Regions from separate parts of the Homo sapiens genome. Here region 1 is linked to region 2. The links come from fine-mapping of genetic effects on gene expression. A gene starts in region 2. The other region holds a variant in brackets. All regions are shown on one strand. Distances are between the middles of the regions.

Evidence for each region. PIP is the estimated chance that this variant, and not a neighbour inherited with it, causes the effect.
Region 1: its variant is fine-mapped to the expression of SMIM26 in blood mononuclear cells (TOPMed, PIP 0.97).

The regions. Positions count from the first base shown.
Region 1 is chr20:18,627,128-18,643,555 of GRCh38, forward strand. DTD1 (D-aminoacyl-tRNA deacylase 1) reads left to right here. Exons shown (of 6, transcript NM_080820.6): 4 at 1,000-1,106. It also overlaps the pseudogene DUXAP7. Among named protein-coding and RNA genes, the nearest start is that of DTD1, 47 kb to the left of the region's middle. The variant A/C (reference allele first, on the strand shown) is at 7,619.
Region 2 is chr20:18,561,159-18,577,586 of GRCh38, forward strand. It overlaps SMIM26 (small integral membrane protein 26), which reads left to right and starts at 6,274. Exons shown (of 2, transcript NM_001348957.2): 1 at 6,274-6,438; 2 at 8,078-8,402. The coding sequence starts at 6,321. The coding sequence ends at 8,247. SEC23B (SEC23 homolog B, COPII component) reads left to right here. Exons shown (of 20, transcript NM_006363.6): 20 at 1-257. RefSeq lists an enhancer at 5,962-6,061 and a silencer at 6,125-6,407.

The DNA of each region.
Region 1 (16,428 bases), 66 kb after region 2:
ACATGGCCAACAGCTTGGGTGCTTCTAATACAATTTCCAATGCTACTGTCTGTGGGCCAAAGAAAGCTGTCTGTTGGCATGCCCATTTTGCTGAGTCCTTCTGAAGTTAGGGACCCACTGGTAGGAAAGACTCAGAGAAGGAATTTGTGAGGTTGTGGTGGCAGGAACAGAGACTCATGGAGGTCACCCAGGTTGCGGAAGGACCTCAGGGTGTGAGGCCTGCCTGTGCCGCAGTAGCCCAAAAGCAGTGCCTTCCATGGAGGGAGATGGAGGGCTTCACTGCATGCAGTGCAAACATGGCCTTCCAGAATGCTCTGTGTTTGCCTTCCCACCATGTACAGTCCCGGTAACCCACATTCTTTCCCACCCTTGGTGTTACCAGACCTTTTATTTCTTGCCAAATCTGTTGGGCACGCAGCAGCCTCTGTGCTACTTAATCCTGCATTTCCATCCCTCTTACAAGGCTGGCTAACTTTTCCTGTGTTGAGTGGCTGATCCTCCTCCCGGTCAACCTCCTTCTCCCACTGTGACCCGGGTTTTGGATCACGCTGATCTAGGTGTGTGATATGGTTTGGCTGTGCCCCACCCAAATCTCATCTTGAATTGTAACTCTCACAATTCATATGTTTTGTGGGAGGAACCTGGTAGGAGGTAATTGAATCATGGGGGCGGGTCTTTCCTGTGCTGTTCTCGTGATAGTGAATAAGTCTCACGAGATCTGATGGTTTTAAAAACGGGAGTTTCCCTGCACAAGCTCTCTCTCTTTTTGCCTACTGCCATCCATGTAAGATCTGATTTGCTTCTCCTTGCCTTCCGCCATGATTGTGAGGCCTTCCCAGCCGTGAGGAACTGTGAGTCCGTTAAACCTCTTTCTTTTGTAAGTTTCCCAGTATTGAGTATGTCTTTATTAGCAGTGTGAAAATGAACTAATACAGTGTGCTTTTGGATGGAGTAATCTGGTGTCTCCATCTTTGGTAACTGTTTGGATTGCTTTTTCAGATGGCAAGTTTGGGGCCTACATGCAGGTGCACATTCAGAATGATGGGCCTGTGACCATAGAGCTGGAATCGCCAGCTCCCGGCACTGCTACCTCTGACCCAAAGCAGGTAAGCCTGGAGTCTGGTGCCTGGCTCCGTCCCTTGGGTGCCTGTAACATCCCTTTAGTCCCTGGAAGAGTCCTCGGTCTGAGGAAATACATCATTGTTGCAACGTTGTATTTATTTTAATACCTGCCTTCCCAAGAGTGCATGTTTACGGTGCACTCCTGAGTACTGTGGCCGGTGGGTACAGCACTTCTCCCTTGCCTCGTCCTGCCTTTGAATTCCAGAGGACATGTCCTGTGCAGAGCCAGGTTCTTCCCCTGGGCTTCCCTTCCCTTGGCCAGGTGCCGTGGCGCCCACCTGCCCCTGGGTGGCAGCAGAGCAATGGCCCTGGATTGGCCGGTTCACCCATTCCGAATGGTTACCTGAATTGGGTTTGGTCCCAGGTGTGGATAGATGTGCCCCCCAAGGTTTGCTGTAAATCTCCATTTTTCTAAAGCAGTGTCTGACCTGGATTTGCTGCCAATTTGTAAGCTCTCATGAAATAAAAGTTAATTAAAATAGAGAAAGGAAATGTGTAATAGTCCTTGGAACCCGCGTGGTCTCATAGATGCTTAGCATACTTGTAAAGGCTTAATTAACACACTCACTGGATAGAGACACGTAGGGCCTGGCAGGCAGAGGAAGAAGGACTGAGCAAACATTTCCATTCTTCCTTCCCAGTCTCCCTCCCTTGCTAGCATGCTGTGATGGCCAGTGATGCGGCAGTAAGGGGACAGCGTGATAGAAACGTGAAGCTGGGCAACCTGTTCAAAGCCTGATTTTTTTTTTTTTTTTTTTTTTTTTGAGATGGAGTCTCGCTCTTGTTGCCCAGGCTGGAGCACAATGGCGCCATCTTGGCTCACCGCAACCTCCGCCTCCTGGGTTCAAGCAATTCTCCTGCCTCAGCCTCTCGAATAGCTGGGATTACAGGCGCCCACCACCATACCCTGCTAATTTTGTATTTTTAGTAGAGACGGGGTTTCTCCATGTTGGTCAGGCTGGTCTCAAACTCCTGACCTCAGGTGATCTGCCTGCCACGGCCTCCCAAAGTGCTGGGATTACAGGTGTAATCCCACTGTGCTCGGCCTTTTTTTTTTTTTTTTTTTTTTGAGACAGGGTCTTGCTCTGTCACCCAGGCTGGAGTGCAGTGGTGCGATCATGGCTCACTCCAGCCTCGACCTCCCAGGCTCAAGTGATCCTCCTACCTCAGCCTCCTAAGTAGCTGGGACTACAGGCATACGCTACCATGCTGGGCTAATTTTTGAATTTGTGTAGAGAGGGAGTTTTACCATGTTGCCCAGGGTGGTCTTGAACTCCTGGGCTCAACTGATCCACCTAGGGCCTCAGCCTCCCAAAGTGCTGAGATTACAGGCAAGAGTCACCATGCCTGGCCAAAGCCAGATTTTTAAAGTGGAACATAATCTTTCTTTTTTGTTTCTGTATTAGTTTATTCTCATACTGCTATAAAGAAATACCTGAGACAGGGTAATTTATTAAAAAAAAGAGGTTTAATTGGCTCACAGTTCTGCAGGCTGTGCAGGAAGGATGGCTGCAGAGGCCTCAGGAAACTTACAATCATGGTGGAAGGTGAAGGGGAAGCAGGCACATCTTCACATGGCCAGAGCAGAAATAAGAGAAAGCAGGGGGATGTACTACACATTTTTAAACAACCAGATCTCATGAGAACTCACTGTCACGAGAACAGCAAGGGGGAAGTCTACCCCCATGATCCAGTCACCTCCCACCAGGCCCCTCCTCCAATGCTGGGGATTCCAATTCAACATGAGATTTGGGTGGGGACACAAATCCAAACCATAGCAGTTTCTGACTCTTTTTGTATTGAGGAACATGTCTGATGTAGTAGGCTAGACTTCAGTGGTAGTAACTGAGGGTCTTGGAATGACTAATGACATTAAAAAAATCACAAATGAAAAGTCCACATGAAAATGTAAGCTTTTTATTGTGAAATAATTTGAGACTTACAGAAAAGTTGAAAAAACAGAGTTTCCATATACTTTTTAACCCAACTGCCTCTAGTTTCAATGTCTACATAACCATAGTACAATGACCAAGACTTTGAAATTAATGTTGATATAGTACTATTATATTAACTATATTACAAACCTTATTTGAAGTTCACTAGGTTTTTTGTTTGTTTGTTTGTTTTTCAGACGGATTCTCGCTCTGTCTCCCAGGCTGGAGTGCAGTGGCGCGATCTCCGTTCATTGCAAGCTCCACCTCCCGGGTTCATGCCATTCTTCGGCCTAAGCCTCCCAAGTAGCTGGGACTATAGGCACGTGCCACCATGCCCGGCTAATTTTTTTGTATTTTTTTAGTAGAGACGGGGTTTTACCATGTTAGCCAGGATGGTCTCGATCTCCTGCCCTGGTGATCCACCCGCCTCGGCCTCCCAAAGTGCTGGGATTACAGGTGTGAACTACCGCGCCCAGCCAAAGTTCACTAGGTTTTTTAAATGTCTTTTTTCTGCTCCGGGATAATGCAGGATTCCACACGGCATTTAGTTGTCATTTCTGCTTAGTCTTCTCCAATCTGTGACAGTTCCTCAGCCTTTCCTTGTCTTTTGTGACATTGATACTTTTCAAGAGTACTAGTCTACTGTTTTGTAGAATGTTTCTCACTTTGGGTTTTCTATGATTATATTGAGGTAATACATGTTGACAGGAATAGGAAATAGCACAGAAGTGATCTTGTGCCCTTCATAGTGCATCCTACCAGGAGGTATGTGGTATTGATTTGTCTTGTTACCTGTGATACCAGCCTTATTACTTGGTTCAGGTGAAGTCTACCAGATACCTCCATGTTAGATGAAGTGCTAACCTCTTTCCCCTTGTCTGTCCTCTGGCTCATTCACAGCAGACAGCTCTCTCTCAGCTTTGCAGGGAAAGAAGCCAGCAGATGGCATTGACTCTGCTTCTCTATCCCCCTTCTGCCACCGTGGTAGCAGAGCTACCCTTTCCTGGGCTGAGTCCAGCCTCTCCCTGGGGCCAGGACCAGCTACATAATTTGAGAGGCCCAGTGTAAAATGAAAATGTGGGGCCCCTTGTTCAAAAAATATTACAAATTTCAAGGTGGTGACATAGAGCATAAAACGAAAGGTGGGGCCCCTCTGAAGATGGGGCCTGTGTGACTGCTCGGCTGTGGGTCTAGACTGACCTGGGCTTTGGAGCCCTTCCCTTCCACCTCCTCAGCAGCTTCCTGGAAGCCTCTGTCCTCTTGTTGGTTCTGTCTGCCTCTCACAGTCATCCATCTTATCCCATTGGGTTTTAAATATGCCCAAATGTCTCCAATTGAGAAATGCTTCCATTTCCTCCCTTCTGCTCTGCCACAGTGTCCTTGGGTCTGTAAAGGTTCTCACCGAGGGCCCCAGTGACCTCACATTGCTTTATTTCATGCCCATTTTTCAGAACACTTTTCTTGCCACTGCTGCCCACTTTTGCCCCTGGAAATGGCTGGAGCCTTGTTTCCCAGGACGTCATTCTCTCTGGGTTTTTGTCTTGCCTCTGGCTACTCCCTCTGGTTTTATTTGATCATTATTCCATAGTTTTTAGTTATTATTCTGCTTTAACTCTATTTGGAGAAAAATTTTAGTCTTTTTTTCATTCTAAATATTTTTCTGGAAATGGTAGAATAGTACATTTTGCCTTTAGAATCTTCACCTTTCTTTCAACCAGTACCCTCTTCTTGTTTAGGTCAAAGGGTACAAAGATGCAGTTATTTTGGGTGAGTAAGTCTCAAGATCTAATGTACACCATAAGGAGTGCAGTATCATATTGTGCACTGGGAGTAGATTTAGGAATTCTCAGCACACACAGAATAAAGGACGGTAACTGTGTGAGATGCTGGACATGTAATTTACTTGACTGTAGTAATCACTTCACTATGTGTATGTAGATCAGAGCATCATGCTGTACACCTTATACAATAAATCCCTCTCCCCAAATCAAAAAATCCTCAAGTAGGCATTTTTTAAACTTCTAACGAGCCATGTTAACTTATAAGGATTAAAAAAGACTTTTAGTTATTTCTGAATCCTTTAGGAGTTTTCTCCTCAAATACACAAATTGTCTTGCATCAACTTCATTTACATGGACCAGTTTCCTGGCCCCCAGAAGCCTCAGACCCTGAACATTGCACTGCGCTCTGCCCCTAGCTCTCCAGTAGGTGGCGGTGGGTAGGCGCAGAAGCGGCCTGTGTTAGGTTGGTGCTGGCCTGTGCCTGGGGCCTCTCTCTGCCTTTTCTTCTGAATTAGAAGGAGTTTCCTCTTGGAGCAAATAGCTAATTTGCTTGCTTTTGTGTTGATAGGAGGAGCACAGCCAAATTCTTTTTACTGATAGATAAACACGTGTTTCTATCAATTAAGCTTTTAATTCTCAGTGTTTTATTTTTCCATTATATTCCAATCAGTAATGAAAACTGCTACAATTACATTAAAGAAAAATGGTTCTTTTGGCAAATTTCAACGTTATAGAAAAATGATTCTTTTAGCAGGTTCTTTTAAAATATAAATAAGTTCTTTAAACTATCTGAACAAATGGATGATGTGTGTGTGTATATGGATGTATATGTGTGCATGGGTATGTGTGCATATGTGTATGTGTGTGTATGTGTGTGTGTATATGTGATGTGTGTGCCCATGTGCATGTGCATGTGGGTATGTGTGCATGCATTTGTGTATGTATGTAAGCACCAAGTGTCGTTTTGGTATTTGATGGTGTGCTAGGCACTGTGAGGAAGAGAAGGAACTGCTGCTGCCCAGCCTGTGCAGCCGGGGATAGATTTTGGGCAACATAAACCTGAAAGGTTAATGACAGTGAAAGAGGTGGACAGCATAAGACAACTTAGGAAAGGTTACAAGACCATTCAGTTTGTGCTCCTCCTTAGAACTCTTCAGTGCCTTCCAAGTGCATTTTGCTGAAGCCTTGCATTCCTTGCTGTCATTTGCCAAGGCCTAAGTGACCAGGCGTCCGTGGCCCTTTCTTGCCTGCTCTGTGGCTGTCTTTCCCTCCATCCCTATGCTTCACCTACTGCATCTGCTGTTGCCTCCTCTCCCTTGCTGAGAAGAGGGTCAAGCTCTTTCCTACCTCGGAGCTCTTGTCTCAATTCCAGGGTCTCCCCCTCCTTCTCCAAGAATCTCTGACCCCCACAGTTCCCAGGAAGCCCCTTCGGCTACTCTACTCTGCCCTGTTGCTCTGATGGTGTATTTCACAGACTTCACACCATCTGCTATCATGGTCCACACCACTCATAAAACTCAAGCTCCCTGAGTGTTGTTCACTGCCCTGTCCAGGGAGGTGTGTGTGGGTGGGAGGGGTGGTGTTTGTTTAGCAGTGGTGCTCACAGCTGGTGGGCTGTGGTGTCTATGAATGTCCTGAGTTCAGAGAAGGCCATTGTCACTGCTGTTGCCTCTCAGCCGAGTGGGCCTCCCAGGGGACCGGAGGTTTTAGCTGACCTTTAAGGATATGGAAAGTAGAAGGGATTCCCAATTATTGTTTTCAAATTTCTACTTCAAATAAGGGTAGATTCTTATTTTCAAGAATCTCAGAGCTCTACTTATGTGATGCAGCTACTGCTGGTGAAGACTGAGCTGGTAAAGGTAACCAGCAGTTTGCCTTTCTAACTGGACCGCTGCTTGTTTGCAGAACTGGCTGCTGCAGCATCTGCATGCTTTCCATGCAGCATACCCATCACATTATAGGCTGCTGCGTGGGTTTCATGCTATGTCCTGGCAGTGATAAGTTGGAAGGAGAGCATTACATTCTTGCTCCAAATGACATATTTCCAAAGGGAACAGGACATGGAAGCAGCAGCAGAACCAACTGACTGCTGTTTTGCCTGGTGCATTTTTTGCAGGAGAACACGATTCTGGTAGGAACATCCTGCTTATTATTACCTAGTGCATGATTGCTGGTGCATGAGCTCTTCCATTGGTGGCTAGATATTGGGAGATTTTAACACCCTAGCCTGCCATTTCTGTGATAGAAGCTTATTCTTGTCTTGTTTTAATCTTAAGTGCTCTTTCTCTGCGTAGGGCTTGTTTTCCTGAGCCTCACATGGATTGGGGGGCAGATGGAGGTTTTTCCTGGTGAGAAGGGCCATTGGTAATTGAAGGACTCTTCCCTGGGGCCTAGGGCCCACTTAGTTCATAGTGTTGCCATTAATTATTTACATTCTCATTTATTTAGTGCCATCGAAGCCCTCATTAAATTGAAATGCTGGAAGGAGCTAAAAAAATGAACTTTCAAGTATACATGTTTGAGTTAACGGACGTGTTTATTGACAAATCACTGGGATGAGTTGGCTAGCGAAACACGGTGCCTTCAATTTTACGGAGCTATTAATTTTACGCTCCTCTGAGTATCACCGTTGCTCTGTCCATAATTTTCTCTGTATACTTGTCTTATCAGCAAGCATTAATCCCTGAGCCTGGACCTTGGAATGTCAAGATTGAGACATTCATGGCTTTTGTAGGATCTGAAAGAAATATGTAGGGTAAGGGGGTGTGGGGGAAAAGAATT[A/C]CATTTGGTTTTATTTATTTATACTTCCAGTGACAGGGGCAGCCTTTTGATTACCTGCTGTGGAATCCAGAGGTGAAATGAAGGACACATGAGCACACAGGTGGCTTGCTTCTACCAGGTGGCCCCATCACAGGTGCACAGAGGGGAGCTCTCACTTGCTGCATATTTCAGTTTGGGGGACAAATCAAATGAGAAGTACTCTGAATATAAGGAAGAATTATGTTGTTGCTAATAACTTTGCATCTCTTCATGGAAGAACAGTTATTTAAATGTACTCCTTTTCACTCTGTTTTTAGGCTTGAATTCTAGATTCTAGCTCCCTAATTGTGGTTGGTTTCAGCTTCAGTGTTCACATGGCCTGAACCAAGCTCGAGTTGTTGACTTGCTGCAGGAGTATGTTTTAAAGTCTGGTTGCCAAGATGGTAGCCAGATCTTGTCAATTACTCCAGAAATATTAGTTCATTTTGTCATATTAATTTATTGAACAAACGCTGACTGAGGGTCCAGCTTTGTTTATGCTGAAGTATCACCAAAACAGAAGTGGGAACTCAGCAAAGCGTCCTCATTACAGAGTTGTTGCTGTTGTGCAGTCTTTGTCAGTGACGCTGACTTCTGGGACGTAGGCTGCCACATGGAAGGCCTCCTACCAGGGCTAGGGCGCCACCTGGCCAGACCTCTCACCACACATGGAATCACCTGGATTTCTGATCCTTTCTGTCTGAGCACCTGCTTTCCATGAATTATGAGATCAGCTCAGCCCTCTGGGGAGTGAGTTGGGTGTAGAGATGGTGGAGCTCCTGACCTCACTCAGCCCAGCCCACTGCTCTGCACAGTCAGAATTTATCCTGAGTCCTTGTCAGTGCCTGGGGGAATGCCTGCCTATTGCATGAATATTTGGTATGAAAGGGTGGGAGCTTAGTAGATGTTTTTCTTCCTGGTGGAGAGCTGTAAGGGATCACTTTTATCACTTTAATTTGTTTCCAAATAGATGGTTGTCCTAAGTCAGCTCATAGTGGGCTTAAAAAGAAGCCTTTACAAGGCTGGCATGACTGTCTCTTTGTTGGGGACCCATTGATGAATTGATTAATCAATTGACTTTCACCTTACCATCTTAAATCCATAGCACAGGTTAAGGAAATTGCAAAAATTGAAAAGAGTTTTTTTCTCTTCTACTGGAATATGTCTGGTAAATTAAAAACTAGGATCTGTTTCTTTTCTACCATTGACACATAAGACATTTCTAATCTCCAACCAGAGCAAAATATCTGTTTTGCTTTAAACCAGTCTCTCAGGACACTAATGGGGTAGTGCATTTAAGGTTTAAGGGCTTTATTTGTTTGTTCCTGTATATGTGTTTTGGGCAGATTCCTAGTTATTTTAATCTTATAATCTCATTTGTGTGTGTGTTAAAAAAAAACGAACTCCTTACCTTGCTGACTTGACCTGCCAAAGATTAACAGCATCCTTTTTATTCTGAAGGGAGAGAGGTAGAGTTTTTCCTTCCATGGATTTATACATTGTGCATAGCAATAATTTAGTTAAACAGACTCAGTATTTTAATTGGGAATTCTTAGCTTGTTAAGTGATTTACCAGGAGCTTCACAGTCCCGGGTAATTGTAGAAAAATGTTCTGCCAGTCAGTGGTGTTTTGCAGAAAACCTTGCCGAAACATTTGCTTTAGTAATGGAGAGAGAATGAAAGATCTGGAAGTGATAGAATTCTAAAAAATGCAGCACTTGCTATACTTTTTTTACAGGCATAGATAAAACCCTTATCTACACAGAGGTGTTTGCCAGCTTGCCGCAGTATAGGTGTAGTCTGTAATGACTGATGAGGTAGTTATCTTTTTTAATCTTAAAGAGAAGGTTAGGATGGGTCAGTGGGGTGTGAGTTGGATCAAGTAGACTCTTAGGGGCTCACAGACTGGCCTGAGCTTATCCCACAAGTTTTGTATGTGTGGATGTGTGCAAGTGCCTTTTGCTGGGAAAAAGGGGACCAGGACTTTTGTCACATTCTCTGGAGGTCCCAAGAAGTGAAGAGGCTGGTGGACTGGGGACTGTTGTGTGCAGAGATTACACATTCTTTCTCTATCAAAGTTATCCAGGGGTTGGTGGTAGTGTTCCTCAAACGGCAGACTGAGGACCACTGGCATCAAGCCACCCATGGTGCTTACTAAAATGCAGGGTCCTGGGCCCACCCAGGTTTTCTGAGCCAGAGTTCCTGGAGTGTCTGGATGAGGAAGGCAGAAGAGTAGCCCATTTATGTTTCTAACCAGGTCTTTGTGTGCTCCTAAGCACACTGACATTTGGGAACTACTGGAATAGAGAGAATCAGGCCTTGCAGTGATCATCTGCTCCAGGTGTTGGTTTCTTCTGGACCACCCTGCCCTCCCTTCCTCACCCCCAACTGTCTAAAAATACTTTACAACCTATGTTACTGCAGCTGCCAGGAAACAAGATGGCTTTGCTTGATTATTGAGGTCACATGTGAGTCTGTTCTTATTCATCAACGAGCCCTCAGTCTCCCAACACCCCTTCCCCCTGCCACACAGGCAGTGATGAAAATGTTTCCAGAATATGGTGCCTTCTCAACGCAATTACAGATGTGTCAGGGAAAAGCCGATGCAGCAACAACAGCTCAATATGTTAGTGACTGATGATCAGCCGCTCTACTGGGTGACATTGAGGCATATGCTGGGGTAATAACTTTTTTCCTAGGAGAGATGAGCCCAACATGTGGATTGCTCAATGAGTGTGCAAGATTGTAGCAGTGTAGCCACTTTAAGACTTGTAGTTGAAAGTAATTTATAGTTTTCTTGGCTTTCTGAGTACCAGACATGGAATGCCTTACTCATCTGTCGAAGTGTTAATGGAACTAGAATAAAAACCCAGGGTGATCGACATCTTAGCCTCTGCATGGAAATTGTAGTTTAATGAAATTCATGAATGTGGAGGCTTCCATGGGCAGTTAGCTGATCATTTACATTTAAACACACATGGGAAATTGTTAAGGGCTCATATTTTATGATGTATTATTACCTATTCAGTTCATGGTAAAAGCTTTTCACAATGAATTGTAGACTAGTTTCCTGCAGATTATTTATTGTTTCATGAATAAGTATCACAATTTTTTCTCCTTTGTGTCTCTGCTCATCCACCTGAAATGAACTCCTTCCCTGTCTCTACCTGCTGACATCTTCCCCATCTTTTAAGGTTCATTTCAGATAGGTAGCTCTTCACACATGATGCTTACCTCAGTGCCCATCCAGGCGAGGCCTTTCTTCCTGCCTTTGGCTCCCCATCACGTGGTGTGGCAAGGATTTCGTAGTGGTAATGCCCTTGAATAAAAAGCTCATGCTCATTTGTTTGTTTGCTTGCTTGTTCATTTATCCATTTATCCATCCACCCATATGTCCCTCCATCTGCCCATCCATCCATCCATCCATCCATCCATCCATCCATCCATCCATCTATCCATCCACTCACCTGTCCACTACCTACTCATCCAATACCTTTATCCAGCAGATTATTATTGGGTGCTTGCTCTGTGCTGGCCCTGCATGTAGGTCCAGCACTGAAACAACATTGTACCCTCATGAAGCTTCCATTCTAGTGGAGAAACAAACAAAAACAAAAACAAGTATAATTTAAAATTCTGATGATATAAAGAAATCAAACAGGGTTAGGTGTAGAGAATGCTGTTGGCTAGAAGTCCCCTTAGGTGCAAGCGCTAGGGAAGGATGCTGAGATAAGAGGGAGCCAGTGAAGACTGAAGGAAGAGTGCCAGACAGAGGGGTCAGCAGATGCAGAGCTCTAGGGTGACTGGTGGAAGAAAGGCCAGTGTGGCTGGAGCTTGGAGGGTGACAGGGAGAGGGGCAGAACCTGAGGCCAGAGCTGTGACCTGGGGTTGATGGAACAAGGCCTCATGGGCCAAGGTAAGGAATTTGGCTTTTATTGTTAGTAAGCCAAAGACCTGTTAGAATGTTGAGAGCTCTGATTTGTGTTTGCAGAGATGGATGAGACTGGGTTTAGTGTAGGCTCAGGATCGGGGGATGTGTGGCTTGTGACAGGGTGGCAGAGAGGGCATTTAGGAGCTGTGGAAAGATTCTGGATACACTTTGGAGGCCCTCAACCACTCTCATATTCTGCCTTCCACAGTAGAGCTTTTCTGTCAGTGACTCATGTTTGGTTCTTTCATACTGTGGCTTGAGCATTAGAGAGTAATATTGTAAAGTTCAACCTCCCACAGTTCACTGCAGGAATGACCCCATTCTTGCCTCCAAGGCCAGCATGGTGGAGGGATTCCATGGCATGAGTTTCTATGATGACATCAGACATTGGACATCAAGGAGTGCGATGCTCACCCCTGGTTTTTAGTGATCCTTGGGCACAGTCTGGACACAAAAGCCAGAACTTGTTTGATGGTTTTTTTTTTAAGAAAAAAAAAAAAAAAAGCAAGCAAGTTCAGGGAAGCAGTCTCCTTTTTCCTGGTCAACATGAAGCCAAGTGTTTCACTATTGCCCAGTTTTCCCCCAAATACAAAAACATTAATTTTAAAAAGATACTGTAAAAAGCCCAAGAAACATGTATATTGAATTTGATTTATGTATACTATTGTAGCTAATATTTTCAGGGAAATTTCTAAATGTCTGTCATAGGAGCTTGTCAGAAAAAGAAAGATTTATTTTTGGAAAAGTATGTTTCCTGGTGTTCATTGAGCTTGGAAATTATGGAAAGTCATTGTCAGAAGGGAGGCAGCTGCTCCAGAGGCGGAGTGGAAGTCAGGACTGGAGAAGGTTGTCCTACTGTGGGCTCCAGCGTGCCTCTTGCTGCTAGCTGGTCAAGAGTCTCGCAGCAGCCACTTTATACCTCACTAGCTCCACCATCGCAATTATTTCTGTCAAAACGAAACACAAAAGAATGGCATGTCTATGAATATTCTTCACAGAAAATATATTCGTTTGACTATTTTCCATAAAATGTGAAGTCAATTTCTTTTTCTATTTTTAATCATGAAAGTGAAGCCCGGAAGCCTCAATTTCTTTGTAATGGAAAGATCTGAGTTTGTGGCCTTGTTTCCATTTTCCACTTCTCCTTTGCTAAGTCAGGAACATGATACTCACATAATATCCCCCGGGCAGTGGCTCTGTTCAGGAATTGCATGGCTGTTTGACTGCAGAGGGAGGGCAAAGGCTATTATTAACCATTCGTGTCATTGTTGGGTCATGAAACCTTCAGGGGATAAGTATAAGTTCTATAAAATTTCATTTTGAAATCCAGACCAGATCTGGCCTTATGCTCTGAGGATTTTTTTTTTTTTTTAAGTTTCATGTTGTCCCTTTGCCCCCCTTCATTTTCTCTTGGGAAGAGTCTCTTATTATCATAATTACTACTTGAAAAAAAATTCCAAGCAAGAAAGCAGTGTATTAACTGGAAAGTAACAATTTAGAAATGTTATTTTTTAATAGTAAGCTTTTATAGTATTCCTGGGTAGAAAGGTATTTTTATAGAAACAGTTATTTTCCTATCTTTTTTCTCATGAGTCCATAAAATAGCATTTTTATATCAATTTTTGTTATATCTAATACATAAAATCAGTATTCTTTTAAGAATTTAGAAGTTTAAGATACACTAAAAATATTTTTGACAATAACTCTCATTCTCAGAGGTAGCGCCGTTAATAAGTTCTATGTATTTACTTCCAGACTTAACAAAAATATGTTTACCCACATTTACACATGGTATCTCTGGGTGGGTATATGTCAGAAGATTTTTTTAAATTGTGTTTAATTATACATAACCTAAAATTTTTAGGTATACAGTTTCGTGGCATTAGTATATTCACATTGTTATGCAACTTTTATTATCACCATCTATCTGCAGAATTTTTTTTTTTTTTTTTTTAAGACGGAGTCTCGCTCTGTCACCCAGGCTGGAGTACAGTGGAGTGATCTCAGCTCACTGCAACCTCCATCTCCCAGATTCAAGCAATTCTCCTGCCTCAGCCTCCCGAGTAGCTGGGATTACAGGCATGCGTCACCGTGCCTGACTAATTTTTGTATTTTTAGTAGAGATGAGGTTTCACCATGTTGGCCAGGCTGATCTCAAACTCCTGACCTCAAGTGATCTACCCGCTTCGGCCTCCCAAAGTGCTGGGATTACAGGTGTGAGCCACTGCTCCCAGCCTATCTACAGAATTCTTTTTATCTTACAAAACTGAAACTTTACCCTTAAGTAGTAATTCCCGATTCTCTTCTCCCTTCAGCCACTGGCAACGGCCCTTCTATAATACTTTCTGCCTTTTGAATTTGACCACTCTGAGTATCATATGAATAATCATATGGTATTTGTCCCTTTGTGACTGGCTTATGTCACTTAGCATAATTTCTTCAAGATTCATCCATGTTGAGCCTTATGTTCATAGCATGTGTCAGAGTTTTCTTTTTATGGCCACAGAATATTCTCTTGTATACCGTATTTTGTCTATCCATTCGTTTATCCATGCACACTTGGGTTGTTTCCACTTTTTCATTATTGTGAATAGCGCTGCTGTTAACATTGGTGTACCAATATCTCTTCAAGACCCTGCTTTTAATTCCTCTGGGTAAATACCTAGGTACAGGTTGTGGATCATATGGTAGTTCTTTGTTTAATTTTTTGAGGAACCACTATACTGTTTTCCACAGCGTCTGTACCATTTTACATTCCTACCGGCAATGCTCAAGGGTTCTGATTTCCCCACATCCTCACCAACATTTGCTGTTTTGTATGTGTGTTTGTGTGTGTGTGTGTGTGTGTTTTCTGATACTGGTCATCCTAATAAGTGTGAAGTGTATCTCATTGTGGTTTTGATTTACGTTTCTCTAATGATTAGTGATGTTGAGCATCTTTTCATGTGCTCCTTGGCCATTTGTATATCTTCTTTGGAGATCTATTTCAGTTCTTTGCCCAGTTTTGAATTGCTTTGTGTTTTTTTTATTGTTGAATTGCAGAAGTTCTTTATGTATTCTGTGTATTAATTTCTTAACAGATAGATGATCTGCAAATATTTTCTCTCATCCTGTGGATTACCTTTTCACTCTGTTGGTGGTGTTTTCTGATGTACAGAAGTTTTTAATTCTGATGAAATCCAATTCGTCTGTTTTTGCTTTTGTTGCCTGTGCTTTTGATATTATATCCAAGAAATCATTGCCAAATCTAAATCATGAAGCTTTTTCTTTATGTTTTCTTCTGAGAGTTTTATAGTTTTAGCTTTTACATTTAGATATTTGATCCATTTTGAGTTAGTTTTAGTATATGGTATAAGGTGTATGATGTTTTTACTTGCAGACAGGTTGGGAGACCAGTATCAGGGACTTTATTTTCTGAAATCACTTGAGAGTAAGTTGTTGGCCTGATGCCTTCTCACCCTTGAATTCATTAGTATCTTTCCTGCAAACAGGGACATTCTCTTATAGAAGCCCCAAAACAGCTGTCAAAATCAGAAAATTAGCATTGACATTTTACTAGCAGCCATCTTCAGCCTCCATAATTTACCAGTTATCCCAAGGAGGTCTTTTATTACTATTATTATTAAGTTTATTTTCATTGTCTCAAGGTCTGCTGAACTCTGGATCCAGGCTGTGTCAGTAGGGTAGTGTGATGCCTCTTGTACCTATCTCTGCCTCCTACAGTTCTTTTTATTTATTTTATTTTATTTTTTATCATAGAGACAGGGTCTTGCTGTGCTGCTCAGGCTGGTTTCAATCTCCTGGGCTCAAGCAATATTCCTACCTCTGCCTCCCAAAGTGCTGAGATTACAAGTATGAGCCACCGCACCTGGCCAAGTTGTTTACCCTCTTCAGAAGGCTTAGCTTGCAGTTTCAGCAGAAGGATCGACTCCCAGGAAGACCGTGAGAGAGATTTGGGACCCAAGTTGATAATACTAAATACACTGAACTTGAGTGTTTTCACCATGTTCTGGCTCTAGGGAAGTGACAGTTGCTAGTGAGGTTGGTGCTATTGTATGTGTCTTCTGTACCTTGAAGTCCCTCAGAGATCTTGCCCCTGGTCTTCTTGTTCTAAGGACACAACAGGTTCCCTTTTTCTCTGAAGATGAAATCTAGATCTTTGATTTTGGAACCAAATTTGGACTCTTGACTCTGGAGCACCAATTTCTTTCTTTCTTTTCTTTTCTTTTATTTTTTTTGAGACAGAGTTTCGCTCTTGTTGCCCAGACTGGAGTTCAATGGTGCGATCTCTGCTCACCGCAACCTCTGCCTCTTGGGTTCAAGAGATTCTCCCGCCTCAGCCTCCCCAGTAGCTGGGATTGCAGGCATGTGCCACCATGCCCGGCTAATTTTGTATTTTTAGTAGAGATGGGGTTTCTCCATGTTGGTCAGGCTGGTTTCGAACTCCTGACCTCAGGTGATCCACCCGCCTCAGCCTCCCAAAGTGTTGGGATTACAGTTGTGAGCCACTATGCCCAGCCTGGAGCACCAATTTATTTAGCAATTTGTTCTCTGGAATCAATCCCAGGGTATGGGTTTTTCATAAATGCCTTGTTGAGAGTGCGTAGTTGAGAGGTGCTGTAGGTAGTACGACACCGTCTGGCTTCTCTACCAGGTTGATCTTGCTTATGGCTCTGGCTTGACTCTAAAGTCTCAGGTCTGATCTTTCCTGGAATCTGTGCCTAGCTCTTCGATTCTGAAACCAAATCTGGATTCTGGGTGAATCTTCTGTATTGATTTCTAAAGCAAGTTTTTGTTTGATAGCATAATCTGAGTAAAGTTTTTGATTGAAGCTATTGATGAGAATTTTCAATTAATCTTC
Region 2 (16,428 bases):
TCCTTAAGAGGTGTTTCCTGAACCTAATTCTCATAATTAAAGTAATGTATATGCAGGATCAAAATGAAACAAATATACCTTATCCTAAAGAGCTCATAACAAATAAGTTACCTCCACTCTATAAACTCAGACCTACTTTTTGAAGATAACTGCTTTTAACCTCTCCTTACAAGATTTTTGTTGTTGATGTATTTAATTTTAGCCCATGTCTCAATTCTCATTTTCAAAGAATCAATATATTAATATACCTTTGGTCATTTTTGTATTTTTATTTTTATATTATCAAGATTGGTAAAATGTATATTCTGGGTCAGATACAGTGGCTCACACCTGTAATCCCAGTGCTAAATTTAGGAGGCCAATGCAGGAGACTCACTTGAGGCCAGGAGTTTAAGACCAGCCTGGGCAACATAGCGAGACTGTCTCTACAAAAAATTTTAAAAGTTACTGGGCCATGGTGGTGTGTGACTGTAGTCCTAGCTACTTGGGAGGCTAAGGCAGGAGGATCACTTGAGCCCAGGAGTTCAAGGTTGCAGTGGGCTCTCATCATGCCACTGCACTCCAGCCTGGGTGGGAGAGCAAGACCCTGTTTCAGGAAAAAAAAGAGATTATATTCTGGCCTATTATCATATTTTTTGTCACTAAGTTGATTGTCAAAGCTGAAAGCTCCTAAGAAGCATTTACACAGCCGTGATGATGTAAATATTGTTCCAGTCCAAGCCAGGTAGGATGACATTTTTCTCTAGGGTGCTAGTGTCCCAGTCAGTCCCTATGTCACTTGTAGGAAAACATTCCAAAGGACAGAATCAGAGTTACTTTCTTACATTCCATCATGCCGCATGTTGGTTTGATCCCTATTTGGATTATGATTTCTTAGATTTGCTGTGGTTTTCCCCAGAATTTCTAAATTTTGTTTGCTTTCTGAGAGAAGAAATATTTTGCTTTCTATTTACTAAGAAATTCTAGCCTATTCTACTGAATGAAGTCCATTTTTTTCTTCTTTGGAGGCCACTGATGTCCCCTTTTAAGGGGGGCCAATAACTTTGACCTACTGCACAACTGTCATCCAGGAATTTCTTCTGTTTGGAATCTCGGGTTAGTTCCACTCTTCCCTTTATTCCATAAGGCATTTTGCAATCTCAAATGACTTTTACTAAAAGGAGTACTTGGGGAGAACTCACTGCATCTTAGCATATCTGCAAATCTATTCTGTCTTCACACTTTATAGCTTTGCCAGGTAATATAGTTTGGATATTTGTCCCCTCCAAGTCCGTCATTGAAATGTAATCCCCAGGATTGGAGGTGGGGCCTGGTAGGAGGAGTTTGGGTCATACCGCTGGATCCTTCATGAATGGCTTGGTGCCATCCTCACAGAAATGAGTGAGTTCTTGTCCTGGGTTCAAATGAGGTATGATTGTTTAAAAGTGTGTTGGCTGGGCACAGTGGCTCATGCCTATAATCCCAGCACTTAGGGAGGCTGAGGCGGGCAGATCACCTGAGGTCAGGAGTTTGAGACCAGCCTGGCCAACATGGTGAAACCCCATCTCTACTAAAAATACAAAAATTAGCCGGGTGTGGTGGCTTGCGCCTGTAATCCCAGCTACTCAGGAGGCCGAGGCATGAGAATGGCTTGAACCCAGGAGGCAGAGGTTGCAGTGAGCCGAGATCGCACCACTGCACTCCCTGGGGGACAGAGCGAGACTGTCTCAAAAAAAATTTTTTTAAAGTGTTACCTCCCCCACCTCTTCCTCTCGTTCTTGCCATGTGGTACATCGGGCTACCTCTTCACCTTCTGCCCTGATTGTAAGCTTCCTGAGGCCTTCACCAGAAGCAGATGCTGGCACCATGCGTCCTGTACAGCCTACAGAACCGTAAGCCATAAGCATAAACCGTAAACCTCTTTTTAAAATAAATTACCCAGTCTCGGGTGTTCCATTACAGAGATCCAAAGACAGACTAACCCACTGGGTCTAAAAAGTATAGGCCCAAGATAATCTCAGAACTTTGGAGTCATTCTTTCATTCGTTCAACAAATAACTATCCGGTACTTGTTGTCTATGGAGTAGTCTTCTAGGCATTGGGAATACTGCCAATAAAACAAAAATTCCTGTTTTCATAGAGCTTATGTGTTAGTTAGGGAAGACCAACAATAACAATGTTAGAAGTAAATGATATGGCCGGGCGTGGTGGCTCATGCCTGTAATCCCAGCACTTTGGGAGGCCGAAGTGGGCGGATCACCTGAGGTCAGGAGTTTGAGACCAGCCTGGCCAACATGGCGAAACCCTTTCTCTATTAAAAATACAAAAATTAGCCAGGCATGGTGGTGCACACCTGTAATCCCAGCTACTTGGGAGGCTGAGGCAGGGACAAATTGTTTGAACCCAGGAGATGGAGGTTGCAGTGAGATTGTGCCACTGCACTCCAGCCTGGGCAACAGAACGAGACTCCGTCTCAAAAAAATAAAAAACAAAAAAGAAATGAAGTAAATGATACATTAGAAGGTAATGAGTGCTATGTAGGAAAATGAAGCTGGAAGCTCCTATTAATTGGATGTTGGAACAGCTGGATTGATTGCAATACTCTGTTTTGAATTTGTATTCGAATACAAGTTATTGTATTTCTTTTTGTCTCTGCCCTACATTCTAGCAGAATTCTAGCAGAGTTTCCTATCTTAAAATGTTGAACATTGGCCAGGTGCGGTGGCTCACACCTGTAATCCTAGCACTTTGGGAGGCTGAGGTGGGCAGATCACTTGAGGTCAGGAGTTCAAAACCAGCCTGGCCAACATGGTGAAACCCCATCTCTACTAAAAATATTAAAAAATTAGCCAGGAGTGGTGGTGGGCACCTGTAATCCCAGCTACTTGGGAAGCTGAGGCAGGAGAATCACTTGAACCTCGGAGGTGGAGGTTGCAGTGAGCTGAGGTCACGCCACTATACTCCAGCCTGGGTGACAGAGGGAGACTTCATCTCAAAAAAAAAAAAAAAAAAAAAAGTTGAACATTTACATTTTTCTGTGCGTTTTCCAAGAATATTTTTAGTTTTGGATATAATTTTTAACACATCATATAGAAGAATACATAAAGTTGTCTGTACAGATTAAGGCCAAAACATCCTCTTTGGCTTTTCTGTTTCAAATTAACAGAAAAAAGACTGTGTGATAGACCCAGCTAACTCTGCGGTTCTCTCTAGTGTCAGTGAGTTAAGGAGCTGAGGGAACTGCATGGTATGACATGGCCATGCAGGTCCCACCTTAGGGTACCAGTGACGTTTTTCCACAGAATGTAGGGGGTGGCAGGGTGATAGTGCTGTGTGGAAAACAGCTATCATGAGAAGGGGCCACTGAGCCCAGTATGCCCAGTGAGGACTCTGAACTCCATCTTTTTATTAATTGTTAATTTTTGTGGGTATTGAACTCCATCTTGAAGGTAGGGCAAGCCTCTGACTTATCTTAGGCAGAGGGTGAAATGATAATTTAAGGTTTGAAAGACACTCCAGAGGGGGAAGGATGAGAGGAGACTGTAATCCAAGTGAGAAATGAGGCCTAAACAGAGACAGGGTATTTAGACAGAGGTGACAGAGGATGTCAGGTGAGATGATTCCAAGTTCCTGGCTTGGGCAATTTCTCAATCACTCTCTGAATCAGGGAAGAGAAAGGGAAGGTTTGTTTCCTGTTGGGAGTGGCATTGATAAATTCAATTCGGAACATTTTTTTAGTTTCAGGAGCTTGTGGAATATGCAGCCGAGGATGCATAGCAGGTTGGCAGTAACATGAATTTGCTTTCAGAGAATCTGGAGTAGATTTGAGAGTTATTAACATATAACATAGGTATCATGAGTAAGGCTGATGAGAAGGATGAGAAGAGACGCAAGCTTGAAACAATACCAATTTTTCTGTTTTGTCTATAACTATTGAGCTATAGTTCACATATAATAAACTGCACCCATTTAAAGCATACAATTGGATAAATCTTGACAGAAACCACCACAATAATCAACATACAGAACATTACCATCACCTCTCAAAGTCTCCTCAGACCCTTTTAGCCCTTCCCTCTCTCCATGCCCTTACTGCAGACAACTACTCATCAGCTTTCTCCCACTGGAGTTTGCTTCTAGAATTTCGTGACTGGTTTCTTTGGTGTCTAGCTTGCTTTTTCACTTAGCATAATCCATTTTGAGATTCATCGTATGGTTGTATTTATCAGTAGTTCTTTTTTTTTTTTTTTTTTTTTTTTTTTGAGAAGGAGTCTCACTCTGTCACCCAGGCTGGAGTGCAGTGGTGTAATCTCGGCTCACCACAACCTCCGCCTCCTGGATTCAAGTAATTCTCCTGTCTCAGCCTCTGGAATAGCTGGGATTACAGGCGCCCGCCACCATGCCCGGCTAATTTTTGTATTTTTAGTGGAGACGAGGTTTCACCATGTTGGCCAGGCTGGTCTCGATCTCCTGACTTGAGGTGACCCACCCATCTTGGCCTCCCAAAGTGCTGGGATTACAGGTGTGAGCCACCCGTACCCAGCCAGTAGTTCCTTTTTATTTGTAAGTGGTATCCCACGTTTTGTTTAGCCATTTACTCGATGGGTATTGGGGGTGGTTTCTATTTTTTCCTATTAAGAATAAAACTATGAACATTCATGTACATGGCTGTGTGCAGACACAGGTTTTCATTTCTCATGGATAACTAGAAACGGAATGCCTGGGTTATATGGTAGGCATATGTTCAACTTTTTAAAAACTAAGTTTTGCAAAGAGATTGTAACATTTTATGTTCCCATCAATAACAGTTCCAATTATTCCAAATCCTTACAGCTCTTGGCATTCTCAATCTGATTTTAGCCATTCTAGTAGGTGTGTAATGGTCTCTTATTGTATTCTTTTAATGTCCATTTCTGTGATGACTAATGATGCTACTGTGCTTATTGGTCATTTGTATATCTTCTTTCGTTCTATTCAAATTTATTGCCTGGTTTTTAGTTGGGCTGTATTTTTATAACTGAGTTGTAAAGCGTCCTCATATATTCTGGATCCAAGTCCTTTTGTTAGATATATGTTATTATGAATATTTTATTCTGTGGCTTGGCTTTTCATTTTCTCAACTGTGACCTTCAAAGAGCAAAAATTTTAATTTTTTTTTAAAAGCCCTATTTATCCATTTTCGCTTTATGCATATATATATAAAATGAGATGGGGTCTCACTATGTTGGCCTTGCTGGTCTGGAACTCTTGGGTTCAAGCAATCCTCCCTGCTCTACCTCCCAAAGTGCTGGGGTTACAGGCATGAGCCACCCCGCTTGGGATGCCTTTTTTATTCTAAGAATTCTGTGCTTATTCCAAGATGGCAAACATATTCTCCTGGTTTTTTTCTAGGCTTATATTAAATAGTTTTAGCTTTTACATTTAAGTCAGCGATCCATTCAGAGTTAAGTTTTTTATCTATTTCTGTAGGGCAGAACATCAGTTTTTAAAGGGTGGGCAAGGTGAAAAGAACCCTGAAGGATACCAGGGAAAATGATGTTTCTGAAGCCATGAAAGGTGCAGGTGGGGTCAGTGGTGGCAAATGCTTTCGAAACCAAGTTTGAGTGTGGCTGAAAAGTACTTAACGTTAATTTACCGGGCCTACCTTGTGCCAAGCACATCACACTTGCTCTTAAGTTGTTCAGTCTATTGAGGGCATCTTGCTTTAAAAAATGTATGCATAAGACAAAAGCTGGAGGTGGTCGGAGTCGAAGGAGATTTTTTGTTTTTGAGACATGGGCACGTTTGTATGAAGGATAAACGTCAATAATGAAGATGGGGGAGGACTTAGGGTGTCAATGAGGGGAAAGGCCACTGAGGCTGGAAAAAATAGTACCCAGAGCCTAGTGGAGGGATTAGCTTTGGCCTGGAAGTATTTAAAGTTCACCCAGAGTTCCGGAAAGAAAAATGGAGGAAAAGAAGAGTTGCGGGGAGAGACAAGCGGTATCCCTGCAAATCTGAAAACTGGAAGAGGAATTGGAAGTAACCTTTTCGGATACCGTCTGGAGCCCACGAAGGCATTACAATTTTGCAAGTGAGAAGCTTCTCCTCTAAGTTGTCATTTAGTCCTCGTCACGTGGTAAAAAGTATCGCACGCCCACAGTTCTACACCCGAAAGTCCGGACACCTGAGCGACTTTCCGGGCCAGAGGCCCCAAGGTGCATCGGGGCAGAGCCGGAAGCGGACGCTGAAAACTGGCGGCTCCTTAATGGTTCCGGCGGCAGGGACCGCAGCGACGCCCTCACCGGAAGTCCCGCCTCTGCCGTGGGCCTGCGAGAATCGAGGCACTCGCTGGCGTACCCATGTATCGAAATGAGTTCACGGCCTGGTACCGGCGGATGTCGGTGGTCTACGGGATCGGCACCTGGTCTGTGTTGGGCTCACTGCTTTACTATAGCCGGACAATGGCGAAGTCGTCAGGTAGGGCTCTTCGGCGGGGCCTGCCCCGGAACACACGGCCTTCGATGAGAGTTCCCCGGGGGTCATGGAAACAACTTCCCTGTCCTTTAAATCCCAGGTTTATTCTGCAAAACTAATTGAAACGGGTGCTAACAGCCGTTTGTTATAATGGAATCTGCAAAGAACTAGACTCCAGGAATTATTAATACCTTGTAAATATTGTTTCCTAAATCTGAATCATTTACTGGATAGGGCCGTCCCCATATTCAGAATTGGAGGAATCTGTGTAAAGTGCAAGGTGGACTTTCAGAGACTCTGGCCGGTGATTTTTAAAGAGTGATGCTTCAGTACTACTGTCCCTCATCGTATATGGCGAGCAATTTCAGTACTTTTAGCAGCCAAGGCGTATTAAAATCTTCCAGTTACTAAGCGCAAAGGGAGAAAAGTCTCTCAGCTTTGAAAAATATGCTGGAAATCTGTAGAGACATTAAGTTGATTAGTGTGGTTGCTAGGGGCTGAGGGGTTGGGGAGTTGGGGAATGACTGCCAAAGGTATGGATTCCTTTTGTGGATGAAAGTATTTTTAAATTGATTGTGGTGCTGGTTGCACAAATCTGAATATACTAAAAACATTAAATTGTATATTTTAAGTGGGTTAATCGTATATGTTAATTATATCTCAGTAAAGTTGTTGTGTAAAAACTATGCTGAAGATTACATTTGGTGATGAAGCTGTCAGTGGCCTGAAAGTACATGTGTCCAGCATTAAGCATTTAAAAACATTTTGGCCGGGTGCAGTGGCTCACGCCTGTAATCCCATAACTTTGGGAGGCCGAGGTGGGAGATTGCTTGAGCCCAGGGGTTCGGGACCAGCCTGGGCAACATGGGGAGACCCCCATCTCTACCAAAAGAAAAAGAAATTTTTATATATAATATTTTATATTTACTTTATATGTAATATATGGTAAAAATACTTTACATTTATATATAAAGTAAAAATATTTTAATGTCCATATTTATGTTTTCTTTCTTTCGTTCTTTTTTTTTTTCTTTTTGACAAGGTCTCACCCTGTCGCCCAGGCTTGAGTGCAGTGGCATGATCTCGGCTCACCACAACCTGCGTCTCCGGGCTCAAGTGATTCTCCTGCCTCAGCCTCCCGAGTAGCTGGGATTGCAGGCGCAGGCCACTGCTGCCCGGCGAATTGTTTTATTTTTTTTTTGAGACAGAGTCTAGCTCTGTCGCCCAGGCTGGAGTGCACTGGCGCTATCTTGGCTCACTGTAACCTCCATCTCCCAACTCAAGCAGTCCTCCTGCCTCATCCTCCCCAGTAGCTGGGGTTATAGGCCCATGCCACCACGCCCAGCTAATTTTTGTATTTTTAGTAGAGATGGGGTTTCACTACGTTGGCGAGGCTGGTCTCAAACACCTGACCTCAGGTGGTCCACCTGCCTCGGCCCCCACAAAGTGAGATTGGGATTACAGGCGTGAGCCACCGCACCCAGCTTTTCTTTTCCCTTCCTTTTCATTCCTTCCTTCATTATTGGGGTTGGAGAGAGTGGATGTAATTCTTACCTTAGTTAATTTCTAAGACTTTAATGACTGCTTTCTAAGTTAATAATTCAGGTGTTCTTTTTTTTTTTTTCTCTTAATGGTGATAAAGTAGACCAAAAGGATGGCTCAGCAAGTGAAGTACCCAGTGAACTCTCTGAACGCCCAAAAGGATTTTATGTGGAAACAGTTGTCACATATAAAGAAGATTTTGTTCCAAATACAGAAAAGATCCTCAACTATTGGAAATCATGGACTGGTGGCCCTGGTACAGAACCATGACTGGCTGCTGAATTCTGAAAACCAGGACTTGGTTCAACATTTAAATTTGATAGTTGCCCTGATTCCCATTTTGGGTTTGTGAAAAGTGTATGTATTTAAATTTGCTGTAAAACATAATCACTAATAATATGCAATAAATATTTTCTTGAAGGAAACTATCTGCGTTTTCTTTTTTTTTTTTTTTTTTGAGACGGAGTCTTGCTGTGTCACCCAGGCTGGAGTGCAGTGGCTCGATCTCGGCTCACTGCAAGCTCCGCCTCCCAGGTTCATGCCATTCTCCTGCCTCAGCCTCCCGAGTAGCTGGGACTAAAGGCGCCTGCCACCATGTCTGGCTAATTTTTTGTGTTTTCAGTGGAGACAGGGTTTCACCGTGTTAGCCAGGATGGTCTCCATCTCCTGACCTTGTGATCCGCCTGCCTCAGCCTCCCAAAGTGCTGGGATTACAGGTGTGAGCCACGGTCCCCGGCCTACTATCTGCATTTTCAAGAGGTGTTCCTCTGTATTTGCATGAGTGAAAGATTGCTGTGAAATTTCACATAGAGCTTCCATAAGCTTGATTTCCTGAAACTAGTTAATGTAGATTTATATTTCTTTCATGTTGCTATTAGGCACAGCTTTAGTGGTCGCTTTAAGGTTAGTTTCAGCAAATCTCCATATTCACTTTGGGATTCACAGTAGCCCTTTGGGTACTACTGCGTACTGGGTAAGTATGATATAAATTTGATTGTAACTTCTGAATTAAACAGACTGGACCTATTCTTTAGGACCAGTGCACATACCCCTCATTCCTTCAGCAAGTGTGGATTACCCACCAACTGTGGCCAGTGCTATTCTAATGCTGGGAATGCAGTCAGGACGACATGATTGATGCTGAACCAGTTTCCTCAGTGGTCTCTTGGTTGCAGGCAACAAACACAAGTGAGCTTAAATCAAAAGTGGGTGTTTATAAAAAACGTGTATTGGTAGCTCAGAATTAAAGCAGAGAGTATGGGCCAGGAGCGGTGGCTCACGCCTGTACTCCCTGCACTTTGGGAGGCCGAGGGGCGGATCACAAGGTCAAGAGATCGAGACCGTCTTGGCCAGCATGGTGAAACCCTGTCTCTATTAAAAATACAAAAATTAGCTGGGCATGGCACCGCGCACCTGTAGTCCCAGCTACTTGGGAGGCTGAGGCAGGAGAATCGCTTGAATCTGGGAGGCGGAGGTTGCAGTGAGCTGAGATCGCACCACTGCACTCCAGCCTGTTGACAGCGAGATTCCATCTCAAAAAAAAAAAAAAAAAGCAGTATGTTGTCTTCAGAAGGCCTGACACTGGGACCAGAATGCAGGCAGCCACTTGTTGAGCCTGCCTGGGCTCTTGGCCTTGCTTTTCTTATTGCACACCAGCTGCTTTTCTCACCTTTCTGGAGTAATACAAATATCCCAAGAAGATACTACCTCCCATGTGCAGTGCCAAAGTCTGACCAGCCTCTCCTCAACCTGGTCTTTGGCTTCCACCCTTGCGAGAGACTCAGTTCAGTTTTTATCAGATCCCTGCCTATGGATTATAGAGTACTGCCTCAGTTATGAATAAAGTGGCATTTGTTTCTCATTTAGGTAGTGTTTTCCTGTTCATAGCTGTTGGGACCCTGTGAGTAGAGATGTGATGTGTGGTAGGACAGGAATTGGGCATTTCAGGGTTCCTCTACAGTACTATGACCTTCAGACCCTCATCTTGATTTCTCATTGGTGTCAGTTCCACCATTATGGGTGGCCTGAGCAGTGCTGTGGTGCAGTCAGCCTTAGTGACAAGGATTCCAAAATCACAAGTAACAGCTCCAGATGCTGGTAGCAGAGACTCAGCTTCCCAAGGGATATCAGGTCAAGCATGGATTCGTGCCAATTGGCTGTGTATTCCAGTGGACCATCTTGGTTGGCATCAAACTGATGAATGAGAAGCAGTGTACGACAGTAGATGGGGAAGGTGAGAAGCAAGTGAATCAGAAGTATGGGAGAAATGGGAACAGTAGCATGAACGTTTTGGAAGACATTTCCTAACATGAGGGCTTCCAGAGAAACAAAGGGCAAGGGCTGAGGGGCTGTGGCACTTGGCAGGTGAGAGTTGTTAATAGAGCACACCGAGGATAAACAGCTGAACTTCTACTCTCACCTGGCAGTCTACCCAGGATTCATACACTTGTGGGGCTTAAGGGGACATTTGGGTTAGCTTTCCTTGGGACTTGGCTGGGTTTCTTTGCTAGATCTAATTTATTCTCTTATTTCAGCCCAGCGTTCTCCTGAACTCAAGATCCATGTCCATCTAGCATTGCCACTTGGATATCTAGCCACCTCAGCTTTGTCCATAACTTAAATTGCTGTCATCACCCACAAGGCTGCTCTTCCTTCCGTTCTCTTTCTCAGAGAGTACTCAGTTCCTCAAATTAGGAACCTATCATTCTAGACTTCTCCCTCTTCTTGTTCCTTCTCCTTCCTCCAGCCACCAGGTCCCATCATTTCTACTGCAAATATTCCACTCCATTCCCACCTTCCCATTCCCTTTACCACTACCTTACTTAAATCCTCCATCCTCTTTGCTTATGTAGCCTCAACTTCCTACTCTCTTTGTCTCTACTTGGAGTCCCCTCCAATTGGTTTCTACAGTATTAGCCAGCATGACTTTTTTGAAATTAATTTTTATATTTTTAACAAAGCAACAAATGCATTAAAAAATTAAATAATGATCAAAAGTTTGTAACCAAAAAAACAGTTCCTGCTTTATCCCTCCTTGCTTTCAACTATTAGGTTTTTTTTTTTTTTTTTTTGGTATTTACGTCCACATTTCTAAATAATAAGCTTTTACTAATATCTTTAATTTATCAATCATGTATGGGATTTATTAATGAGGATTTGATCCTCCTTTCCAACTGACTAACCAATAAAACTATTGCATATTTTTGATGAATCAATAATTAATATTTACCCTGTTTTAACTATGCAAACATAGTTTGTTGATAAGCCAAGTAAGTGAGCTATAATTGTTTCTCATATAACTTTTCTTTCTGGAGTTAACTGCACTCTTTTTTTCATTTGCTTTGTTTTCTTGATGTTTCTCTCTCATTCTTTCCACATCCTCTAACCTCACAATATAATTTTCCACACAAACCTTTCCAGTTTCTCTTTTCTGTTTTTAAATCTTGGAGCTCTTTGTCTTCTTGGTACAATCTGGACTGATCACTCTAGTTCTGCTTTGCATCCATTTTTCTTTGCTATTTGCTTTGCCATCCTATAATGGATCTCTGTTTTCTCGATACTGTGTCCCCATAATTCTGAAAAAGGGTATATAATTTTTTGGTGATTTTTCATGTCTGAACATGTCTTTTTTTTTTTGAGACAGTTTCGCTCTGTCACCGAGGCTGGAGTGCAGTGGTGCGATCTCGGCTCACTGCAACCTCCGCTTCCCAAGTTCAAGCAATTCTCATGCCTGAGCCTCCCGAGTAGCTGGGACTACAGGCCTGCGCCATCACACCCAGCTAATTTTGCATTTTTAGTAGAGATGGGGTTTCGCCATATTGGCCAGGCTGGTCTCAAACTCCTGGCCTCAAGTGATCCGCCTGCCTCCACCTCCCAAAGTGCTGGGATTATGGGCATGAGCCAGTGTACCCGACCAGAACATGTCTTTTTCGTATTCTCATACTCAATTACTAGTTGGCCTGGGTACAGAACCCCAGGTTTGATCATTACTTTCCCTCAGAATTTTGAAAGCATCAGTCCCCTGTATTCTAGCAATTCCAATATTTCAGCTGAGAAGTCCTAATCTTTGATTATTACCTGTTTTCTTCTCTCCAGAAGGTCTTAGGACCTCCTTCATCTCTAGTGTTCTGAAATTTTTACAATGATGCACCTAGTGTGGCTTAAAAAAATTGACTAGGCTGATCACTCAGTGGGTTCTTAGTTCATGGAAACTCTTGTTTTGTTCTGGGGAATTTTCTTATTTTTTAGGAATTCCGTTTGCCTTTTAATTTTTTTTCTCTGTGTCTGGAATTCCTAATAGACATTCCAGACTACTTTTTATTATTTTATACTTTTTCTTAACTACTGTTGATCTCTTTGTTTATTTTCTACTTTTCAGGGAGAGGGTCATTCATTTACTTATACACTTGTGAAGGCGGCAAAATTTTACCTATACTTTTTAGGGTTTGTGGCTGGGCCTGAGAATTAAATTGACATAAAACAGATTAGCCAAAGTAAAGTGTACAGATTCTTACATGCACTTGGGAGCCCCCATAGAAAAATGGAGACCCAAAGTGGCAAAACCTAACTGGTTATATACTGAGTTAAACAAAAAGAGGCAATTATGGAAAAGGAACTAAAATGTACAGGAAACCAGAGGAGGATAAGAGTTATTTAAACAAGGCCTGTTTGTATAGAATTATCTCGACCTTGACTCTCCATCTCTGGTGATAAGAATGGTTCTTTCCTCCTGGTATAGGGAGGGCATCTTCCACATGGCAGTTTTATCTCTTGCTTGCTTTTTTTTTTTTTTTTTTTTTTTTTGGAGACAGAGTCTTGCTCTGTCGCGCAGGCTGGAGTGCAGTGGCATGATCTCAGTTCCCTGCAACCCCCGCATCCTGAGTTTAAGCAATTCTCCTGTCTCAGCCTTCTGAGTAGCTGGGATTATAGGCACACACCACCACACCCAGCTAAATTTTGTATTTTTAGTAGAGACGGGGTTTCACTATGTTGGCCAGGCTGGTCTCAAACTCCTGACCTCAGGTGATCCACCCGCCTCTGCCTCCCAAAGTGCTGGGATTACAGGCGTGAGCCACCGCGTCCGGCCTATCTCCTCTTCAAAAAGAAAAGAGGAGGTCAGATCACCCTTCCTGCACCTGCTATTTTTCAAGTGTCTTTAGCTCGAAATAAATTTTATGCCAAAGTGGCATATTTTTTGGTGGTGTATCCCACCATCCTTCACATTCAACAGATAGCTACTGAGCCCCTACCTTGGGTGTGGAGGACAAAGCAAATCCATCTTGGACGCTGATCTGCCATGTTGGATTCTGATTAACCCTTGTTCCATGAAGGCCTCTAAGATTTGCAGCTTATCTATTGTTCCTTGTGTAAGAGCATGTCCTTACAGTCAATCCTGCCCTTAGATCCAACAACCTTGATGTTATTGTACTTCAGTTGTCCCACATATCCCTGCTGAACCACCCTTCCCTAGAGTATAAAAGCCCTGGGTCTGCGGGGTGATGGCTCAGGGATCCGCCATCTTGCCTGGCAGCCACCCAAGACACAGACACGGCTTCTGTTCCTACGTCCCTATTAAGTGTTTCTTTCTAAGAAACCAGATTTGTCAGCCTCCTTTTTGGCCTCTCGGCTTCCTTAGACTTTGGGGCCAGTTTGTATAGCCCTGCCTACCATGGGATGCTGGGCCAGCATTGCTCTGTGTGCTGAGTACTATATAAACAAGGCCCTCAAGCAGTTCTATCTTCCAGCGGAGAAACAGACAACAAAAACTAAGCAAATACATTATGTCTTATATAATACAACTTTTTTTTTTTTTTTTTTTTTTGAGATGGGGTTTTGCTATATTGCCCAGGCTGGTCTCGAACTTCTAGGCTCAAGTGAACCTCCCACTTCAGCCTCCTGAGTAGCTGGAGCTACTGGTGTGCACCACTGTGCCTGGCTGTAATCCAACTTTTTAATTGCATTTTAATATTGGCTATTATAGAAAGCTCTTGTAAATTAGTTCCTTTTTATGGTATCCTATTCATTGATGAATACAACATTTTCTGATGGCTGGAGGTATTCTAAGTTGTTTTACTATTTATTCTTGCACTGCTATAAGTTCCTTTACATGACTTGTTTTTGTCTCTCTCAAGTTGGAGGCATTTGTCTCATGTCCCTTCTTATTGTACAGGCATTGATTTAAGAACCTTTCACGAACCTTCTGCAGCTTGAGGATGGGGGTAGGTGTTTGTTAAGTTATGACTGGCTTTTTACTGGTGGTTGGTGTTGAAGTTAGGATTCTTAGCTACACACCACAGAACTGGAGCCAGTTCATGCTGAAAAGGAACCTTGCAAAGGATATTGGGAAACTCCCAGAATTAGGGGGATCATTGGGGAAACATAGTTACAGACAGCGCAGCCAGGAATGGCACCCCAAGTATCCTGCCAGACCACCACCAGGTACAGGCACTGTGGGGTCATGCTGACAAAATAGGCTGTTCCTGCCGGGCCCCTGCCTCCAGTACCTCTGAGAGCAGGGAGTTTCTGAAGACCCCACATCAGAATGGCTTCCCGGAGCAGCCTGCTTATCGTCACTCGTCTCCGAATCTAGTTTCACATGGGGATGCCTAACTCAGGGTGTGTTGGTCACACTCCTGGGCCTTAGCTGCAATTAAGTCTGGGAAAGAATTTCTGGCTTCTACTGTGGGGATATATGGAGTTTTAAGGTAAGAAGTTCCCCAAATATAGGATGTTCACAAAATGCTGGAAAGACAAATACCATGACAAATGTCCACTAGAGACAGCAAGGCAGATATTTTTAGTGGGAGGTACTGACATGCCAGCATCTGTCAATCAGTTCCCAGGAGAAGGGTCCTCTCTCCAGTCTCCCACAGGGATCGAGGGTAGATGCCTGGCTGTAGGAATCCTGGGAACTAGACTGGGGAGGGGTTTGGAGATGGTTGTTTAGAATAAGGGTTTCCATTGAATCCGGGGCCACATCCCCCTCCTCTGCTCTGGCCAGAGCAGAAACTTCAGGTTTCCTGAGTGAAGTGCAGGAAGTTGGGGTGGGTACCTGGGGGTCCAAGTGTTGCTTCTGCAGACTCAAACATCTCTCTGCGTCCAGCCCACCCTTCACCCTGCCTCCACCCACCTGGAATTTTGGTATGTGTTATGTAGAGTGTGTCTATATTTTAAAATCCCCAATAAAAAAACTTAAATTTTGAGTCTCTGTTGAGCTACCCTGGTAGGCCACACTTGAAAAGTGTTGTCAGGCTGGGTGTGGTGGCTCACGCTTGTAATCCCAGCACTTTGGGAGGCCAAGGCAGGTGGATCACTTGAGGTCAGGAGTTCGAGACCAGCCTGCCAACATGGTGAAACCCCTTCTCTACTAAAAATACAAAAATTAGCTGGGCATGGTGGTGCATGCCTGTAATCTCAGCTACTTGGGAGGCTGAGGCAGGAGAATCACTTGAACCCAGGAAGCAGAGGTTGCAGTGAGCTGACAGAGTGAGACTCCATCTCAAAAAAAAAAAAATAAATCAATGCTAGAGGAAAAGAATGTGTCCCTTCCCATAGGAAGAGGGCTTTGGAAGCCTGTGCCTGTTTTCCTTCAGACTTTGCCCCGTGCACTTCTTGTCTTTGCTGATTTTGTTTTGTATCCTTTTGCTGTAATAAACCACCAACGTGACAATAACTATATGCTGAACCCTGTGAGTCCTCCCAGCAAATCACTGAACCTGGGGGTAGTCTTGGGGACCCTGGACATGCTATGCAGGCAAAGGCTACCCAGCTATGGAAGGAATACTATTATAGTCCCACTCTATTATAGTCCCACTCTATATCTGTGACATATAGAGGCTCAGGATTGTCAAGTATACTTTTCAAAAGTTAAAAACATGAGTCAAATACAAGAATGAGCAAATGTCAAATATTTGTTCAAGTCATAAATGAGAAAACCAGCAGCACGGTAAAGCTGATTCAAAGAAGAAGAAAGGACCAGAGGTTATTTAGGCACTGGAGAAAAAAGAGTTAGAATAAGATTTCTGGTTAATGTTCTAGCGGGGATAAAGCCCTAAATTTTGGGTTATTATTTTTTAATGGACAGAAATTATTTTTATTTTTATCCAACAAAAGTTTACAAGTTAACATGAACCTTCACAAAATCCAAGCCTTTAATTAAAAGTAGGTGACGGTGCCTGGCTAACACAGTGAGACCCCGTCTCTACAAAAAATTAAAAAATCAGTGGGGTGCAGTGGTGCGTACCCGTAGTCCCAGCTACTTAGGAGACTAAGGTGGGAGATTGCTTGAGCCTGGGAATTCAAGGCTACAGTGAACAATGATCACACCACTGTACTCCAGCCTGGGTGACAGAGCAAGACCCTGCCTCAAAAAAAAAAAAAAAAAATGTTGGCCAGGTGCTCTGGCTCACGCTTGTAATCCCAGCACTTTGGGAGGCCGAGGTGGGCTGATCA